Linked DNA regions of Homo sapiens. The protein of the gene in region 3 purifies or fractionates together with the protein of the main gene of each other region. This does not show direct contact. Each region holds a gene or a part of one and is shown on either strand. Other genes may lie near its edges.

Region 1 (4,298 bases), about 22 Mb from region 3:
CTCCCTGACCTGAACAGCTGGCTATCCACAGTCACTTTTGGTTGCTCCATGGCAAAAGTGCATTTGCAGTAGGTTCATTTTACTGATTAGGTTTTAGAGGCTCCAATTCAAATCAGTTTGCGGTTTTTGAACGTACTGACTCAATTATTAGAAGATAATCTTTAATTTAAAAGGCAATGCAGATGAATTTAAATGCATCAGGTTCAATCACAGTTACTGTGCTTGACTCTCAGAATTTCAGTAAAGGAAAGTAGGCCCTGGAAATGCCACCCCCTTGGCACCCACCTCCCAGACTCCTGGCTGTGTGTCTCCTGACCACTACTCAGGTCTTGCCATTTTTATGCATCCATTACTATGAGGAAGAACCCAATTTTGTTCATTCAATGGGAGGGAGGAAGAGCTCTTGAGAACCTGGTGTGTGCTTATGCTTCATGTTCATTGTTTTACCAATTTTAGAATACCCCAATGGGGTAGGTACTTTTATCTCTCTTTTTAAAATTGGGGAGCTCGAGGCTCAGTTTGGTCATGTTGTAAGTCCCTGTGGAGTTGGGCTCCAACCCAGGTCAGTCTGTTTCCCAAAACCCTTCTGTTTGACTTTGCCGCTGAAGAAGATACAATGAGATGAAGAGTCTTGGGCATGATGGCACACAGGTCATCAGGAAGAAGGCCATCAGGAAGTTGGACTAGAGGTGGGAGGGGAGAAGGAATTAGGGGATTTGGAAATAGAGGGAAAACAGGTGAGCCTGAGGGAGGCACAGGAGCAAGGGGAGCAACAGAGCTGGCCAGTCTGTGTGTGGTGGGGCTGATGCCTGCCTGCTCACCCCTGTCCCCTGTTTTGCCAACTGTCAGGCCACAGTTGTAAGGGATCTTGTGGCTGTCAGGATGGCAGAGGAGCAGGAGTTCACCCAGCTCTGCAAGTTGCCTGCACAGCCCTCACACCCACACTGCGTGAACAACACCTACCGCAGCGCACAGCACTCCCAGGCTCTGCTCCGAGGGCTGCTGGCTCTCCGGGACAGCGGAATCCTCTTCGATGTTGTGCTGGTGGTGGAGGGCAGACACATCGAGGCCCATCGCATCCTGCTGGCTGCGTCCTGCGATTACTTCAGGTGAGTTCACTAGAGCTGTTTGTAAGAAGAATAACAAAGGTAATCCTGGCTCTGCTAGTAAAGGTACTGGCGGTGACAGTGGCTGGTCTCCTGCTCACCTCAGAGCCTCCCCTACTCCTTGTGGCTATGACTTAGTCAACAAGTGTGAGAGACAGAAGGGGGTCTTAGAGTTCATTTTTCATTCAGTGATCCTGTTTCTTGGGCTTTGCCTCCTCTTCTCTTCCCTCTCTTCTCTTCCTTTTCTTTTCCTTTTCTCTCTCTTTTCTTTTCTCTTTTCTTTCCTCCTTTCTCTCCTCCCCTCCCTTACCATTCCTCCCCTCCGTCAGTAATTATTGCTGTGTATGCATCACCTTCTGGCTCACACCTCTCATCCCTCAGGTGTTAGCCTCTGGCCCTCCCAGTGAGCTCTGTGGCCCCTCTGGGGTTTCTTATGGCCTCCTTCGTGACCCCATCCCAGCACTTGGCACAGTGTGAGGAACCACTGGCTTATCTGTCTTTTCCACTGGGTTGGAATCTGTCTCTTATCCCTAGCACCTGACATGGTTTTCACATATTCAAACAATACCCATGGCTTAAATGAATAAATTTATGTACACAGATAGCAGATCAATACACCATTTGCCCTGTTGTCTGCACTGCTCTGCACTCAAGGAGGTGGGTGTCACCACCCTTATTTCACATAGGTGGCATGAGCCTGAGAAGGACTGAGGGCCACTCGTGGTCCCCAGCAAGGTTGTCATGGGACTCCAAGCCTGAGGTGTTCCATTCTAGCTCTGATTCTGTTCAATCATTTTGTCTTCAAGGCTTAGTTGTAGTTCTCTCTCTCTCTCTTTCTCTTTATCTCTCTCTATTTTTTTAATTAGGAACTATCAAGCAAAATATGTATGGTTTAAGTGCCTTCTGTCTCCAAAAGGAGTTTTGGAGAATGTGACCCAGTGGTGGCTTGGTGCAGATGTGTCCAGGAGCAGCAGAATTCTTTCAGTTCACCAGGGAAATTCAGCTGAGGCCTTTAATAAGCATTAAGATAACATACAGGACAGTGGGTAGGGTAGAGGAGCTGAGGGCCCCCTGCAGGGGACTTAGGACCTGTATAGGAGAGGATGGCCAGAGGCTGTGGAGCCTATGGGATCCCCTGGGCTCACCCTCTCAGCCCTTCTTGATTTAGTGTCATACCACTCTTTCTGAAGATGACAGTGTAGGCAGCCTTTCGCTAATCTGTCAAAAACCTTATGTGGCTTTCCACGTCCTCCAGGAGCAATTTCTAGCCCTTTCCACAGCCCCCCTTGGGTAAACCTCTTATGAGAGGTGTCCTGCTCTCCGGGATGATTACAATGCATCACTAACACCCCCTGCATCCCTCCACTTCCATTGGGAAGGGGAGCGGGAGAGTGGCAACATTATTGGAAGAGCCCAGAGTCATTTCACAGGGGGGTGTGTGTGTGTATGTATAAATAAGAAATAGAGGCCAGTCACGGTGGCTCACACCTGTAATCCCAGCACTTTGGGAGGCCAAGGCAGGTGGATCACTTGAGGCCAGGAGTTTGAGACTAGCCTGGCCAACATGGTGAAACCCTGTCTCTACTAAAAAAAAAAAAAAAAATTAGCTGGGTGTAGTGGTGGGCGCCTGTAATCCCAGCTACTTGGGAGGCTGAGGCAGGAGAGTTGCTTGAACACAGGATGCGGAGGTTGCAGTGAGCCGAGATTGTGCCACTGCATTCCAGCCTGGGTGACAGAGCAAGACCCTGTTTCAAAAAAACAAAAAAGAGGCTGGATGTAGTGGCTCACGCCTGTAATCCTAGAACTTTGGGAGGCCGAGGCGGGTGGATCACCTGAGATTAGTAGTTCGAGACCAGCCTGGCCAACATAGTGAAACTCCGTCTCTGCTAAAAATACAAAAACTAGCGGGGCGTGGTGGCACATGCCTGTAATCCCAGTTACTTGGGAGGCTGAGGCAGGAGAATCACTTGAACCCAGGAGGCGGAGGTTGCAGTGAGCCTAGAAAGAGGCCAGGCTTGGTGGCTCACTCCTATAATTCCAGCACTTCGGGAGGCCAAGGAGGGCGGATAACTTGAGGTCAGGAGTTGGAGACCAGCCTGACCCACATGGCAATACCCTGTCTCTACTAAAAATACAAAATTAGCTGGGCGTGGTAGCACATGCCTGTAATCCCAGCTACTCAGGAGGCTGAAGCAGGAGAATTGCTTGAACCCGGGAGGCGGAGGTTGCAGTGAGCCGAGATTGCGCCACTGCATTCCAGCCTGGGCAACAAGAATGAAACTCCGTCTCAAAAAAAAAAAAAAAGAAAAGAAATAGACCATTCCCAAGTGTTAGCATGTTTATTATTTGTTTTAGTTACTTGTGAAATGTTAAAATGATAAAGGACTATTTTTTTCCCAGTATGACTGGTAAATATGTGTGAGAGGCTTGTAATATTTGATATGGGCAAGGGTAGAGAGAAGGGCATTTAGGGGTGGGCTGGCCCATAGTTTAGGGCCCTGCAGTTGTATGTTGGGTGTCTAGGTGTCATTCCTGTGGGACGATGCACCCAGTGCTGAGACATGGTGCAGGACAGAGCCTTTCTGTGTTATCCAATGGAGCTACTTGCAAACTGGGCAGTGTGGTGTGTCTACTGATAGGGAGTGAAAAACCTCAGGACCTGGTGGAAGATGATCCCAACCATGAAGATCTGGAAGGATCTTGCTGCACCGTGGGGACTCAGCAAAGGGCAAAGGGAGAGGGAGGCTGAATTTCTTCTGTTTACTGCATTGTCTGAATTATTTTACAAAGAACATAAATTTCTTTTTTTTTTTTTTTTTTTGAGACGGAATCTCACTCTGTCACCCAGGCTGGAGTGCAGTGGTGTGATCTCGGCTCACTGCAACCTCTGCCTCCGGGTTCAAGCAATTCTCCTGCCTCAGCCTCTCGAGTAGCTGGGACTACAGGTGTGCGCCACCACGCCCGGCTAATTTTTTGTATTTTTAGTAGAGACAGGGTTTCACCATGTTGGCCAGGCTGATCTCGAACTCCTGACCTTGTGATTTGCCCTCCTTGGCCTCCCAAAGTGCTGGGATGACAGGTGTGAGCCACACCACGCCCAGCCTTTTGTTTGTTTGTTTTGAGATGGAGTCTCGCCCTGTCCCCCAGGCTGAAGTGCAGTGGGGCAATCTCGGCTCACTGCAACCTCTGCCT
Region 2 (4,298 bases), on a different chromosome or scaffold from region 3:
GTAGCTAGGATTACAGTCGCGTGCCACCCTACCCGGCTAATTTTTGTACTTTTAGTAGAGGTGGGGTTTTGCCATGTTGGCCAGGCTGGTCTCAAACTCCTGACCTCAGGTGACCTGCCTGCCTCGGCCTCCCAAAGTGCTGGGATTACAGGCGTGAGCCGCTGCGCCTGGCCTTTTATTTTTTTTTAGAGAGACAAGATCTTACTCTGTCACCTAAGCTGGAGTACAGTGGTGTGGTCATTGCTCACTGCAGCCTCAACCTCCCAGGCTCAAGCGATCCTCTCACCTAGGCCTCCGGAGTAGCTGGGACTATAGGCTCATGCCACCACCATGCCTGGCTAATTCAGTTGGCAGAGAAGCGGTCTTGCTCTGTTGCCCAGGCTGTTCTCAAACTCCTGGGTTCAAGTGATTCTCCCGCCTCACCCTTCCAAAGTACTGGGATTACAAGAATGAGTCACTGCACCTTTAACTTGTTTAATCCTCACCCCCAACCCTATGGGATGTCAGTCACTCATAGATTAAATCCTTGCAACTCAAAGTTTGATTTTCATATGTATGAGTTATCTCATGTTGCTTGACAAATTATTGTAAAACTTAAGTGTCATAAAAGGACAAACATTATCAAACAGATTCTATGGGTCATTAATCTGGGTGCAGCTTAGCTGGGTACCTCTGGCTCAAGGTATCTCATGAGGTTGCAATCAAGCTGTCAGTCAGGACTCTGGTTTCATCTGAAGACTCGACTAGGAGAGGATTGATTTTTCAAGCTCATCCCAAAGTCTCTGATCCTTACAGGCTGCTAGACTGAAGGACACAGTTCTTGACCTCAGCTTTTGGCTAGGGGCCTCACTCAGTATCTCATCACATGAATCTCTCTGCTGGGCTGCCTCATCACACAACAGCTGTCTTCCCCAGAGCAAGCAGTTTGAGAAAAGGGGTGCACCCAAGATGGAAGCTGCAGTCTTTTTTGTAACCTAATCCCAGAAGAGTCATTACTTTCACCCTGTTCTCTTTAACAGAAGCGAGTCACTCAATCCAGCTCACACTCAATGGATGTAAATATCAGGATGCAGGGATCTCTGAGGGCCCTTAGAGGTTACCTACCACACTGGACTAGCCTCTCTGGCATCACCTGGGAGCTTGTTAGAAATGCAGAATATGGGCCCCACCCCAGGTCTATGGCAGCAGAGTTTGCACTGTTGCAAGATCCCCATTAAAGTTTCAGAAATGCTGATCCAAATGGGAATGGACCTCACTGGTACCTCTGGCAATAGGGCTAATGGCTTCCCTTCTTCTTTCTCTCAGGTCACATTAACTTTACTATTAGTACAAAGATTCTGGACAGCAATGAACCATGTGGGGGCCAGAAGGGGTTTGTTCCCCAAAAGGGCCGAAGTGACACGCTCATCAAGCCAGTTCTCGTCAAAGTGAGTTTTCTTCAGAGGTAGAGACAGCAACCAACCGAGGGATGCTCAGCATCTCGTCTTGCTGTGAGTTAGTCTCTCACAGCAACCATACTCCAGTCCAACCAGGCAGCTTCAACTTTCTCCTTCCCTGGCCCCTTGAACATTTGCCTAATCCACACCCACGGCCTATGAAAGCACCTAAAACCCGGCACCTCATAGGCACTCAACAAATGTTAGTTTACCTAATTAAAATGTCTGTCTTCATCAATAGCTGCCTTTTTCGTCCCATCATGAAGCCCATTGTCAATCTTGCCTCTTAGAAGTTGCCTAAATGTGTCTTTGGCTCTAGCACTTGCCCAGAAAGAACTTTACAGAAAGGGCCCATCCTTGGGTTGACGCAGAGTTCTTCTGAGCTTCAGTGAGAAGCTCTTGTCTGCAGTTCTGAGGGAAGCCCTGGGGGCACAGCGAGGGGCCTCCCTTCCCTTTCCTTTAGTGCCATCCCTCCTGATGTTCATCTTTGTTGTTTTTATCTGTGTCTCTCTTCATCGCAGCCTGAGGGAGTCCTGGTGGAGAAGACACACAGCTCATTGCTGTGCCCAAAAGGTGGGTGGACTCAGAGCAGGATTGGTGGTGAGAATTCCCTTAGAGGGCAGGAGATTTTCTTTTCATTTTTTTTTTTTTTTTGAGACGGAGTCTCGCTCCGTCGTCCAGGCTGGATTGCAGTGGCACGATTTCAGCTCATTGCAACCTCTGCCTCCCGGGTTCAAGTGATTCTACTGCCTTAGTCTCCTGAGTAGCTGGGACTACAGGTACATGCCACCATGCCTGGCTAATTTTTGTATTTTTAGTAGAGATGGGGTTTCACCATATTGGCCAGGCTGGTCTCGAACTCCTGACCTTGTGATCCTCCTGCCTTGGCCTCCCAAAGTGCTGGGATTACAGGCGTGAGCCACTGCACCCGGCAGCAGGAGATTTTCATAGGCAAAAGGAGGAATGCATAGTACCAGAAGGAATAGGAGAGTCTGAAGTGCCATTCCTCATGGGGCTGATTAACTGGGAGGCAGGAGGAAGAAGAGAAAGTGTGCAGCACGATGATGACTCTCTGTGGAATTTATTTTCAGCAAGATCACTATGAATAGTACCCAGTGCTTTCTGCATCCCAGAGAAAGCACCGAGTACAGAAATCCCTGGATTATAGAAAGTTCTTCTAAAATTTTGTCTTGAGAACCCCTGCCATTCCCCATCTTCTATTGTGTCACCTTTTTTTCTGCATCTCACAGGAAAGGTGGCATCTGAATCTGTCTCCCTGGAGCTCCCAGTGGACATTGTTCCTGACTCGACCAAGGCTTATGTTACGGTTCTGGGTAAGCAGTTAGAGATTCTTGACTCAGAAAGGAAAAGGCGAATGGAGGCTGCAAAGGTGTGGAGTGGGGCGGGACATACGGACCTATCCGGAGAGTGTAACTAATAACAAGTGATGAAGGAAAAAGAGCGTATTTTATATAGGAGGGAAATACAGTGTAGGCAACAGTACAGATGGGATTAGACTTGTACTCTAGTTAAAAATGGAAGAGAGTCAGGGTAGGAAGAAGGTAAGGTCGCTGATGCTTGATTTTAGGTTTAGACAGTCTATAAATTGGGTGAAGGGAAAACAGAATATTTGCAGCAACCATTTTCAAAACTGAGGAATTTGGGTATAGTTTAGGGAAGATACAACCATATTTACAATAGGCAGCACACTTACTGTTTGGGGCAAGGGAGGAAGTGGGTTGAAAAGCATGAACGTAGAAATCATATCTAACCTGTCATTTAATAGCCATGTGACCCTGAACAAGTTAGTGAACAGTTCTGGGCCTTCTTTCCTCTTCTGTAAAACAGTGATAATAACCTACCTCTCAGACTGGTGTAAAGATTAAATGCAATATAAAGTCCCCAGCACAATATCTAGCATGTAGTAGGAGCCCTATGAATGTTAGGCTCTTTCTTTACTCCCTCACCCTCTATTGAGATCCTTTGCAGTCACAGTGTCTCTGTTTTGTCTATTTTATTCGTAAGTCTGACATAGCACTTATCTTATTGTATTAGAGTTCACTGTCTATATCTGTCTTCCACACTGTGTTGGGGGCTCCTGAAGAGGAAGGGCCACATCTTTTTCTTTTGTGTTCCTAGTACAGTTCCTGCAACATAGTTGACATTCAGGACACATTTATAGATTGAATTGAGCTTGTTGGCTACAATGCAGATGTTAATGAGTCACTTATGTCAGGTTCACTGGCTTGGGAAGTATATGAAGGGGTCAGTGACAACTTGGAAAAGAGTGTCAGAACTGTGTTTTAGAGAAACTTGGTGATTTGGAGGGTGAGGAACGTACATGCAGTGGTAGAGGAGCTTAAGAGATTGATCCTAAGTGTTATAAGTTTTGTCACATCACTCATCAGCTCAGTGACATGTCTTCTTAAAAGCCCTGAACTCTCTTAGATAGCTTATGTGCCTCTCCGTGTCCCCTAGCACCTCGTACATATCCAGTATGACATTGTAGTACTGTATTAAAATTGTTTATAATGAATAAAAATTGTAATGTGTTGTAATGGTTTGCTCCTCTGTGAGTTTTTTTGAGGGTAGAGACCGAGTTTGATTTACTGTGGTCTTCCCAGGACACACAGTAGGTACTTTTTTTTTTTTTTTTTTTGTATTTTTAGTAGAGACAGGGTTTGTCCATGTTGGTCAGGCTGGTCTCGAACTCCTGACCTCAGGTGATCCACCCTCCTCGGCCTCCCATACTGCTGGAATTACAGGCGTGAGCCACCACGCCCGGCCCATAGTAGGTACTTATTAAATGATAGCTAATACGTGTTTGTTCAGTGAATGATGATAACTCTTAGAGGGTCCCTT
Region 3 (5,097 bases):
TTATTAGGTTACAAAACCCTAAGAAATATTTCTTATTCCTTGAACACAGTTTAAGAACTTATCCAAATCACATAATTCATTACCCAGGGTTCAAATCCTAGTCTTTTTAAATCTCAAAGTCTATTTCAGCCCTGCCCCACACTATCCCACTCACCCTGGCAAGTCTAACCTCCTCCCTGGTATCTGCTTCCTTATCTAGAAGGTGAAGTCCTCACAGTCTCAACATTTTATGCATCTCAGGCTTCAAAACATCCCTCAGTCCTGGGCCAGGCATGTATACTCAGCTGTGTGCAACAAAAGCCTTCAATGGCTTCCCACTGTACTTAAAAGCCAAATCCAGCTGGGCGTGATGGTGTGCGCCTATAGTCCCAGGTCCTCAGGAGGCTGAGGGGAGAGGGTTGCTTGACCCCAGGAGTTTGAAACCAACCTGGGCAACACAGTGAGACTCTCAAAATAACTGAAAAAGCAAAAAACAAACAAACAAACAAACAAACAAAAAACCTCACTGGGGAACAAAATAAGGGGTAGCATCTGGCACTGTCTCCATCAGAGCCAATCATGCAGTGGAGTTCTCTGTTCCCGGGATGATGCACACAGCTAGGAGACCCAAGCAGCCTCCCCCTCCAACTTCCACTCAGATATTTCTAAATCAGAAAGCTGAGAACGAGATCATAATGCTAGTCCCTATAGGGTCAAGCCCTGGGGAAATAACAAAGCAAACCATTTTGGTCAAGTTTAAGCATATGAAACGGCCAGCTGCCATTAGAACAGAGGAAACGGAATGGGGGGATGAAGGGGAGCTGTGATGCAGGCAGTTTACCCATTAGAACAAAAAGAGATGGACGGAGCTGCCTCTCCCCAGCACCCCGCCTTTGGAACTCACAGCAGGATGGGCTGGTCTGAGGTGATAACATTCCCATTCATGTGAAGGTTGCACTTCATCGGCTGCCCTGAAAAACCAAAGAAAGAAAAAGGCTCTGCTATGAGACCTCGGCTCCTCACACAAGAGGACAAGGGCTGTACCTCCATTATCAATGGTCAAAGCACCCACCACTGGCAGTTCTGGCTCCACAGATGGAGATGGGGCTGCTAGGTTCCAGTCAAGCCAGACACTAAGAAAATCCCAGGGCGTGAGGAAACCTCAGCAGTGGAGCACCAAGAGGCAAAGTGGCCACAAACCTTGCTTCATACAGGAAGAGATGAGTGGGAAGTGAGGGAGAAACGAGACTCAATGTGAAGCCATCCAAGTAGTAAGGGAAAAGGTTTATGCTATCAAATTCAGTGAAAAGATGATCAAAAGCATTATGTACAGGCTTCTACTCTGTCTACAAAGGATGAAGCACTAGGAAGACCACACTCCCACTGTATACAAAGCATAACATGTGTAACGGTAATAGCACAAAAAAGAGGAAGAAGGAACAGGGCCATGTGGGAGTAACATTTCCATATCTTACTCGAGTTAAGTTAGTGAATACATCATTAAAGGAATTAAAATATTGGGGAAAAAATGTGAAAGAAAAGCCACTGAAGAGGAACAAAAAAGTAAAATGGGGCCGGGCGCGGTGGCTCACGCCTGTAATCCCAGCACTTTGAGAGGCTGAGGCGGGTGGATCACGAAGTCAGGAGATCGAGACCATCCTGGCTAACATGGTGAAACCCCGTCCCTGCTAAAAATACAAAAAATTAGCTGGGTGTGGTGGCGGGCGCCTGTAGTCCCAGCTACTCAGGAGGCTGAAGCAGGAGAATGGCGTGAACCTGGGAGGTAGAGCTTGCAGTGAGCAGAGACCACATGCCACTGCACTCCAGCCTGGGCAACAGAGCGAGACTCCACCTCAAAAAAAAAAAAAAAAAAGTAAAATGGAAGAAATAAACCTAATTATCAATATTAAATATGAATGGATTAAATAATCCAATCCAAAGACAGATTGTCAGATTGAATTCAAATAAAAAAAAAACCAGTAAGATCTAACTATACACTCTCTATAGGTGACACATTTTTCTTTCTTTCTTTTTTTTTTTTTTTGAGATGGAGTTTCGCTCTTATTGCCCAGGCTGGAGGGCAATGGTGCGATCTCGGCTCACGGCAACCTCCGCCTCCTGGGTTCAAGCGATTATCCTGCCTCAGCCTCCGGAGTAACTGGGATTACAGGCATGTACCACCACACCTGGCTAATTTTGTATTTTTAGTAGAGATGGGGTTTCCTCATATTGGTCAAGCTGGTCTCGAACTCCCAATCAGGTGATCCGCCTGGCGGATTACAGGAGTGAGCCATTGTGCCCAGCCTAGGAAACACATTTTTACAGTTGATGAGAGAAAAAGATTGAAAGTAAGAGTGGGCCAGGCTTGGTGGCTCATGCCTGTAATCCCAGCACTTTGCAAGGCTGAGATGGGCAGATCACTTGAAGCCAGGAGTTTGACAGCAGCCTGGCCAACATGGCAGAAACCCCATTTCTACTAAAAATACTAAAAATTAGCTGAGTGTGGTGGTGCACACCTGTAGTCTCAGCCACTCAGGAGGCTGAGGCACAAAAATCGCTTGAACCTGGGAGGAAGACGTTGCAGTGAGCCAAGATCATGCCACTGCATTCCAGCCTGGGCGACAGAGCGAGACTCCGTCTCAAAAAAAAAAAAAAAAAGTGAACAAAGATATATCACTCAAATAGCAACCCTAAGAAAGCTGGTCTTTTACTTATTAGCTTATTAGCTATTAGTAATATAAAATGAAATATACTTTAAAACAACAAAAAAAGTGACTAGAGGTAAAGAGAGATTTAAATTTGACTGAAGGGTCAATTCATCAGGAAGAAAACAATCAAACATATATGCAAGTAACAACAGAACCTCAAATATATAAAATAAAAATACACAGAAGTGAAAGGAACAGACCAACAGTAATAAAGATCTCGCCGGGTGCAGTGGCTCACACCTCTAATCCCAGCACTTTGGGAAGCCCAGGTGGACGGATCACTTGAGGTCAGGACTTCAAAACCAGCCTGGCCAACATGAGGTCAGGAAATCAAGACCATCCTGGCTGACACAGTGAAACCCCATCTCTACGAAAAATACAAATATTAGCTGGGCGTGACAGTGGGCACCTGTAATCCCAGCTACTTGGGAGGCTGAGGCAGGAGAATTGCTTGAACCCGGGAGGCAGAGGTTGCAGTGAGCTGAGATCATGCCACTGCACTCCAGCCTGGGTGACAGAGGGAGACTCCGTATCAAAAAAAAAAAACAGAACCTCAGTATTTCACTTTCAATACTAGATAGAACCAAGCAGATCAACAATGAAACGCACTTAAACATTACAAAGCAACAAGACATAATAGACATGTACAGAACATTCCACCTAACAACAAGAAAATACATATTTTCCTTAAACACTCATAGAAGAAAAGAAAATCTGGAAAATTCATGAATATATGGAAATTGAAACAATCCTAAATAACCAATGGGTCAAAGGAGAAATCACAAGGGAGATTAGAAAATAATTCAAGATGAATGAAAATGAAGGCATGATATACCAAAACACGGAATGCAGTTACAGCCATGCTTAGAATATATAGCTGTAAATGCACATACAGTCATGTATCATTTAACCATGGGAATACATTCCAGAGTGCAGTGGCACGATCACAGCTCACTACAGCCTCAACTTCCCAGGCTCAAGTGATCCTCCCACCTCAGCCTCCCCAGCATCTGGGACTACAGGCACACGCCACCACGCGCCCAGCTAATTTATTTTTTGAGACAGGGTCTTGCCACGTTGCACAGGTTGGTCTCAAGTTTCTAGGCTCAAGCGATCCTCCTGCCTCAGCCTCCCAAAGTGCTGGAATTACAGGCTTCAGCCACCACACCCGGCTGTACAGCATGTTACTCTACTGAGTAGAGTAGGCAACTGTATTTGTACATCTAAACGTAGAAAAAATACAGTAAAAATATGGTATTATAATGTTATGGGCCCACTGTCATATATGTGGTCTGCTGTTAACCAAAAAGTCCTTATACTGCATATGAATACATTAAAAAGCAGAAATAAACCTACAGAATGGGAGAAAATATTGGTAAATCACTTATCTGATAAGGGACTTAAGAATATGTAAAGTACTTCTACAACTCAGTATTTAAAAAGCAGACAAAGATTCTGTACAGGCATTTCTCCAAAGATAGCTGGGCACAGTGGCTCATGCCTATAATCCTAGCACTTTTGAGAGGCCGAGGTGGGCAGATCACCTGAGGTCAGGAGTTTGAGACCAGCCCGGCCAACATGGTGAAACCCTATCTCTACTAAAAATACAAAAAAATTAGCTGGGCTTGGTGGCGTGCACCTGTAGTCCCAGCTACTTGGGAGGCTGAGGCAGGAAAGCCGCTTGAACCGGGGAGGCGGAGGTTGCAGTGAGCTGAGATCACGCCACTGCACCCCAGCCTGGGCAACAGAGAGAAACTCAAAAAAAATAAAAAAATAAAAAAATAATAAAAAATAAAAATAAAAAAAAGAAAGAAAAAGGAAAATAAGTATCTTTCCACATCCAAACATATGACAAAAAATAAGAAAAAACAAAAAAAGAACAGAAATTCAAAACAAAATTAATTTCTTTAATGACATACAAATGGCCAATAAGCACATGAAAAGGTGCTCAACATCATTAGCCATGGGGAAATGCAAATCAGAACTCCACTGACTCACCCAGGGGAGTTCACCCAGGTGCCAAGATTTAGCCAAGGCTCCAGGTCTTTTATTTGTAATTTTTTTTATTGTTGTATTGTTTTATTAGTCTCTGCTTCTCCACTTCTAGCACAGGGCCTTGGTCCACAGTAGGCACTCAATACATACTGAAAGAACAAATGAGTGGAAAAGGAGCATGGCAGACAGAATTCTTCTCTACAGGCTGTCTGGAGATGAAAAATATGAACCTCAAGTCAATAAAGTCTGTTGTTTACCCACCAGGAGCAGCTCTCACCCAGGTGTCAACATTCAGACAAAACTCCAGGGCTGGGAGGAACTTCTGCCCTAGCACTAAACAGATCAACATCTGGGAGGCAACAGCTGTGCCTCTTGGCTCCCCTGGCAAGACCCCTTAAGAGAACCATCCATGGAG
Region 4 (4,298 bases), on a different chromosome or scaffold from region 3:
GTTCACAATGTAGGTTTTTAGTTTTATTATTGCAATGGAATTTTTCATAAGCTAAATGAGACATAATTTTTTTCTGTATATTTGACTTCTAGATTAATTTTTAGGTTTTTATTTTGTCTATATTTTATACTTCAAGAACACTGCAGTTCATCTTGTATTTTCCATCTATTTAGGAAACCAGGTGTATCAGGCCATGGAGTTTATGAACTAAAAGATGAATCACTGAAAGACTTCAATATGTACTTTTATCATTACTCCAAAACCCAGCATAGCAAGGTAGAAAAAAGTATCCTTTTCAGTAAATAAACCTAAATGCTTTATGCTTTCTAACTCCACAGAAAATTTTCTGCTTTTTCTATAGTTTCACGCTGGTTCTTATTAATAGAGGTCATTATGTCACCCAAGAATTAAAATTGAATCAATAATCTTATCTAGTATACAGGCAATATTCAGATTTTCCTGATTATACTACATATGTCTTTAATAGCTGTTTTGGGAAGAGGATTCAATCAAGCATCATGGACTTCATCATCACACACTCATTTGATTGTCATGTTTCTTTAGTTTTTGTTTTGTTTTGTTTTTTGTTTTTGTTTTTGTTTTGTGAAATGGAGCCTCACTCTGTTGTCCAGGCTGGAACGTAGTTGCACGATATCAGCTCACTGCAACCTCCACCTCCCAGGTTCAAGTGATTCTCCTGCCCCAGCATCCTGAGTAGCTGGGACTATAGGCACATGCCACCATGCCTGGCTAATTTTTGTATTTTTAGTAAAGACCGGGTTTCACCATGTTGTCCAGGCTGGTCTCAAATTCCTGACCTCAAATGATTCCACCCACCTCGGCCTCCCAACGTCCTGGGATTACAGGCGTGAGCCACCTCGCCCGGCCAATAGTTTCCTTTAATTTAGAAGATAATTCTTTTGCATTTTTTTCTTTTGTAACATCGGCATTTCTATAGAGTACCAAATAGATTCAGCTTAAACAGTTTTTGGCAAGAATACTATGTAAATGATATATTGCATCCCATTATTAGGCACATACGTCTTTTTGTCCCATGAAGGATCATGTTAAGTTTGATCAGTTAGTTAAGGTGATGTCTGGCTTTGTCCTTATCAAGTAAATACTTTACAGCCCATAGCATAGTACCCTGTGCATAATAGGTACTGGGTAAATATTTTCAGTAGAAAATAATGGAGACTAAGTTTTTGATCAGGGATATTCCTCATCTATTTTGCATTAGGTTTCTCTAGAACACAATTTTATTTCTAGGACAAAGAGGCATTTTGAATACATGCTTCAGTATATAAAGTATTTTAATAGGTGGTTGGGTCTTTCCTGACTGCTTTAATGTATTTCATTTGTTTCATGCTTCCAAAGCAGTATATTTAATGATAGATTTTTTTATAGGCTGAACATATGCAGAAGAAAAGGAGAAAACAAGAAAACAAAGATGAAGGTAAAAAGTGAGATTCTGAATTGACTCATTTTGACTATTTTCTGTGGTTTCACATCAGCAAAGCATATAGTTTTTTGTTGTTGTTGGTTTTTGAGAGTGGGCAACTCAAGGAAGTGCAAAGAGCTTTTTGCTTCTTATTCACATATTAAGATATGGTATATATCAGTAGTGATTGAATTTAAAATTGATAACAAATGTAGTTCATTTTGGGTGACTGATATAGTACTTACATTACACTTAACATTGATATTTTCAGTACTGGAAAGGTAGCAAAAAAGCATGTGTTGTTTTGCATGTAACCTATTATTTTTTGACATTTGCACTTTAGTATGTAGGATAACCCAAATAAAAATGTACCTGTTTGTCTCTTTCCCCATCCATTCCCCACCTCCTATAGCATTGCCGCCACCACCACCTCCTGAATTCTGCCCTGCTTTCAGCAAAGTGATTAACCTTCTCAACTGTGATATCATGATGTACATTCTCAGGACCGTATTTGAGCGGGCAATAGACACAGATTCTAACTTGTGGACCGAAGGGATGCTCCAAATGGTTTGTTTACCTGAAATATTTTCTCTACATCAAGTCCTAGAGTTCTTGGGGAGCTAGGGAAGATCTCAGGTCTAACTTCAGTTGGAACCACATCTAGAGCACCGGAAACATAGGGGTCATTAAAAATAGCTTACACACAGCACAAATTTTTTTTAGTGATCTCGTGTTTTTAGCATCCTTACTCTTGGGAACCATTTCTGTTTAATAAAACCCATGAAAACAAAAACAGGTGTACTTATGCTAATAAATTGACATGTTGTTATTGTGTCATGATTTTTTATATTTTTAATTTTACTTGAATTATAAGGAGACAGTATAATAAAATTTGAAGATAGGTCTAGACGTCAGTCTTGGGTTTCCCCACTTCCTATTTAAGGAGCAAATAATAATTTTCTCATTAGTAAAATGGATAAAAGTGTAATTATTCATAGAGGTAGGAGAATTAGCTAAAGTGAAAGCAGCTACTTTTCCTTGTTACTGTTGTAGATAAATACACGTTACTTAATTATGCCACGTCATGGTAGTTGTAACACCATATTTATTTATACCTGCCTAACTAAATGTTCCTTTTTCCTTGAGTATTGTTGGTCTACAGGTTCTAAATGCTGTCATTGCCATATGTGTGCCTCAATTTTTATTATAACACTGATAAATACATTCACTAGTAAATTTCAAACCATAGAGATATGTTTGAAACCAAGTTAAAATTTCTCTCCCTGAGTCCCAGTATGCTATATAGGACATAAGCATTGTTAAAGTTTTGTATATTCTGGAAATCATTGCACATTAGTGCATATAGATCTACTTATTCTTGATAGCTGCGTAGTCCATTGTATGGATATAATGTGTTTCAGTAGTCTCCTATTAATAGACATTCAGGTGTTTCTAGGTCTTTGCTGTAACAAAGAACAATAAAATGTACGTTCTTATACAAATGTTTTTGCATACCTAAGGGAGCGTATTTGTCATACTAATTCCTAATAGTTGGTATATACCTTTACATTTTTGATAGATGTTTTCAAATTGGCCTCCAAAAATGTTATACCAGTTTACTTTACCATCACCACTATGGTCAAAAGTGCCTACTTCCCAATACCTATGCCAGCTCTATATTTTACTAAACACCAAAATTTTTGCCACTGTAATAGGTGAAAAATAGGATGATCTTGTTTCAACTCATTTTTCTTTAAGTGAGGTTGAACTTTTTTTTTTTTTTTTTTTTTTTTTTTTGAGATGGAGTTTCACTTGTCACCCAGGCTGGAGTAGGCTGGAGTGCAGTGACACAATCTTGGCTCACTGCAACTTCCGCCTCTGGGTTCAAGCGATTCTCCTGCCTCAGCCTCCCAAGCAGCTGGGATTACAGATGCCCACCACCACACCTGGCTAATTTTGTATTTTTAGTAGAGACAAGGTTTCACCATGTTGACCAGGCTGGTCATGAACTCCTGACCTCAGGTGATCCACCCACCCAAACCTCCGAAAGTGCTGGGATTACAGAAGTGAGCCACCAGCTCCGGGCCAGGTTGAACATTTTTCATATGTGTATTCATCATTTCTCTTTCTGTAAACTGCTTAATGTGAACTGCTGAAACCTTTCCGTGTTTTTTACCTATCAGCTTTCTTATTTTTATACTTCTACTTAAAATAGATTTACCTTGCTAGGCATGGTGGCCCATACCTGTAATTGCAGCACTTTGGGAAGCTGAAGCAGGAGGATCACTTGAGCGCAGGAGTTTAAGACCAGCCTGGCCAACATAGTGAGATGCTGTCTATACCCCCCGCCCCCTCCAAAAAAAATTTAGCTGGGCGTGGTCGTGTGCACCTCTAGTCCCCAGCTACTCAGGAGGCTGAGGCAGGAGGATCACTTGAGCCCAAGAGCTTAAGGCTGCAGTAAGCTAGGATTGCCCCACTGCACTCCAACCTGGGTGACAGAGTGAGACCAGTCTCTGAAAAAAATTAAAATTAAATTAAAAATATATTTACCTGAAGAAGCGCAATTTTAAAGATCTCTTATTTTCCTCCTTCAGGCTTTTCATATTCTGGCATTGGGTTTACTAGAAGAGAAGCAACAGCTTCAAAAAGCTCCTGAAGAAGAAGTAACATTTGACTTTTATCATAAGGCTTCAAGTATGTTTGAGTATCACTCTTCAACACATTTGTCATTGAAAGTCTAGATCTTAAGGAGTTTTAATTTGTCAATCCTGAAAGTTTATATCTTACAGAGTTTTAATCTGTCAGTCCTTAAAACATAGGTAACCCTGAAATAATTTTTTTCCTAGCATTCTTAGTT

What was found. Proteins that work in one complex are often made in the same cells at the same time.
Region 1: the proteins of POLDIP3 (region 3) and KLHL22 purify together in Homo sapiens (affinity purification with mass spectrometry; one large-scale study listed by BioGRID and IntAct). This does not show direct contact.
Region 2: the proteins of POLDIP3 (region 3) and A2ML1 purify together in Homo sapiens (affinity purification with mass spectrometry; one large-scale study listed by BioGRID and IntAct). This does not show direct contact.
Region 4: the proteins of POLDIP3 (region 3) and UBR1 purify together in Homo sapiens (affinity purification with mass spectrometry; 2 studies listed by BioGRID and IntAct, with this or other methods). This does not show direct contact.

The regions. Positions count from the first base shown.
Region 1 is NC_000022.11:20,485,796-20,490,093, reverse strand, and holds part of KLHL22 (kelch-like protein 22), read left to right. Parts: exon of another isoform or gene 1-263; coding exon of another isoform or gene 264-326; intron 327-849; coding exon of another isoform or gene 850-882; coding exon 883-1,109; intron 1,110-4,298. UniProt on the Homo sapiens protein: Substrate-specific adapter of a BCR (BTB-CUL3-RBX1) E3 ubiquitin ligase complex required for chromosome alignment and localization of PLK1 at kinetochores.
Region 2 is NC_000012.12:8,852,823-8,857,120, forward strand, and holds part of A2ML1 (alpha-2-macroglobulin-like protein 1 isoform 1 precursor), read left to right. Parts: intron 1-1,305; coding exon 1,306-1,427; intron 1,428-1,957; coding exon 1,958-2,009; intron 2,010-2,686; coding exon 2,687-2,770; intron 2,771-4,298. UniProt on the Homo sapiens protein: Is able to inhibit all four classes of proteinases by a unique 'trapping' mechanism. This protein has a peptide stretch, called the 'bait region' which contains specific cleavage sites for different proteinases.
Region 3 is NC_000022.11:42,586,623-42,591,719, forward strand, and holds part of POLDIP3 (polymerase delta-interacting protein 3), read right to left. Parts: intron 951-5,097; coding exon 884-950; intron 1-883. UniProt on the Homo sapiens protein: Is involved in regulation of translation. Is preferentially associated with CBC-bound spliced mRNA-protein complexes during the pioneer round of mRNA translation. Contributes to enhanced translational efficiency of spliced over nonspliced mRNAs.
Region 4 is NC_000015.10:43,022,539-43,026,836, reverse strand, and holds part of UBR1 (E3 ubiquitin-protein ligase UBR1), read left to right. Parts: intron 1-173; coding exon 174-276; intron 277-1,407; coding exon 1,408-1,456; intron 1,457-1,853; coding exon 1,854-2,008; intron 2,009-4,035; coding exon 4,036-4,135; intron 4,136-4,298. UniProt on the Homo sapiens protein: E3 ubiquitin-protein ligase which is a component of the N-end rule pathway. Recognizes and binds proteins bearing specific N-terminal residues that are destabilizing according to the N-end rule, leading to their ubiquitination and subsequent degradation.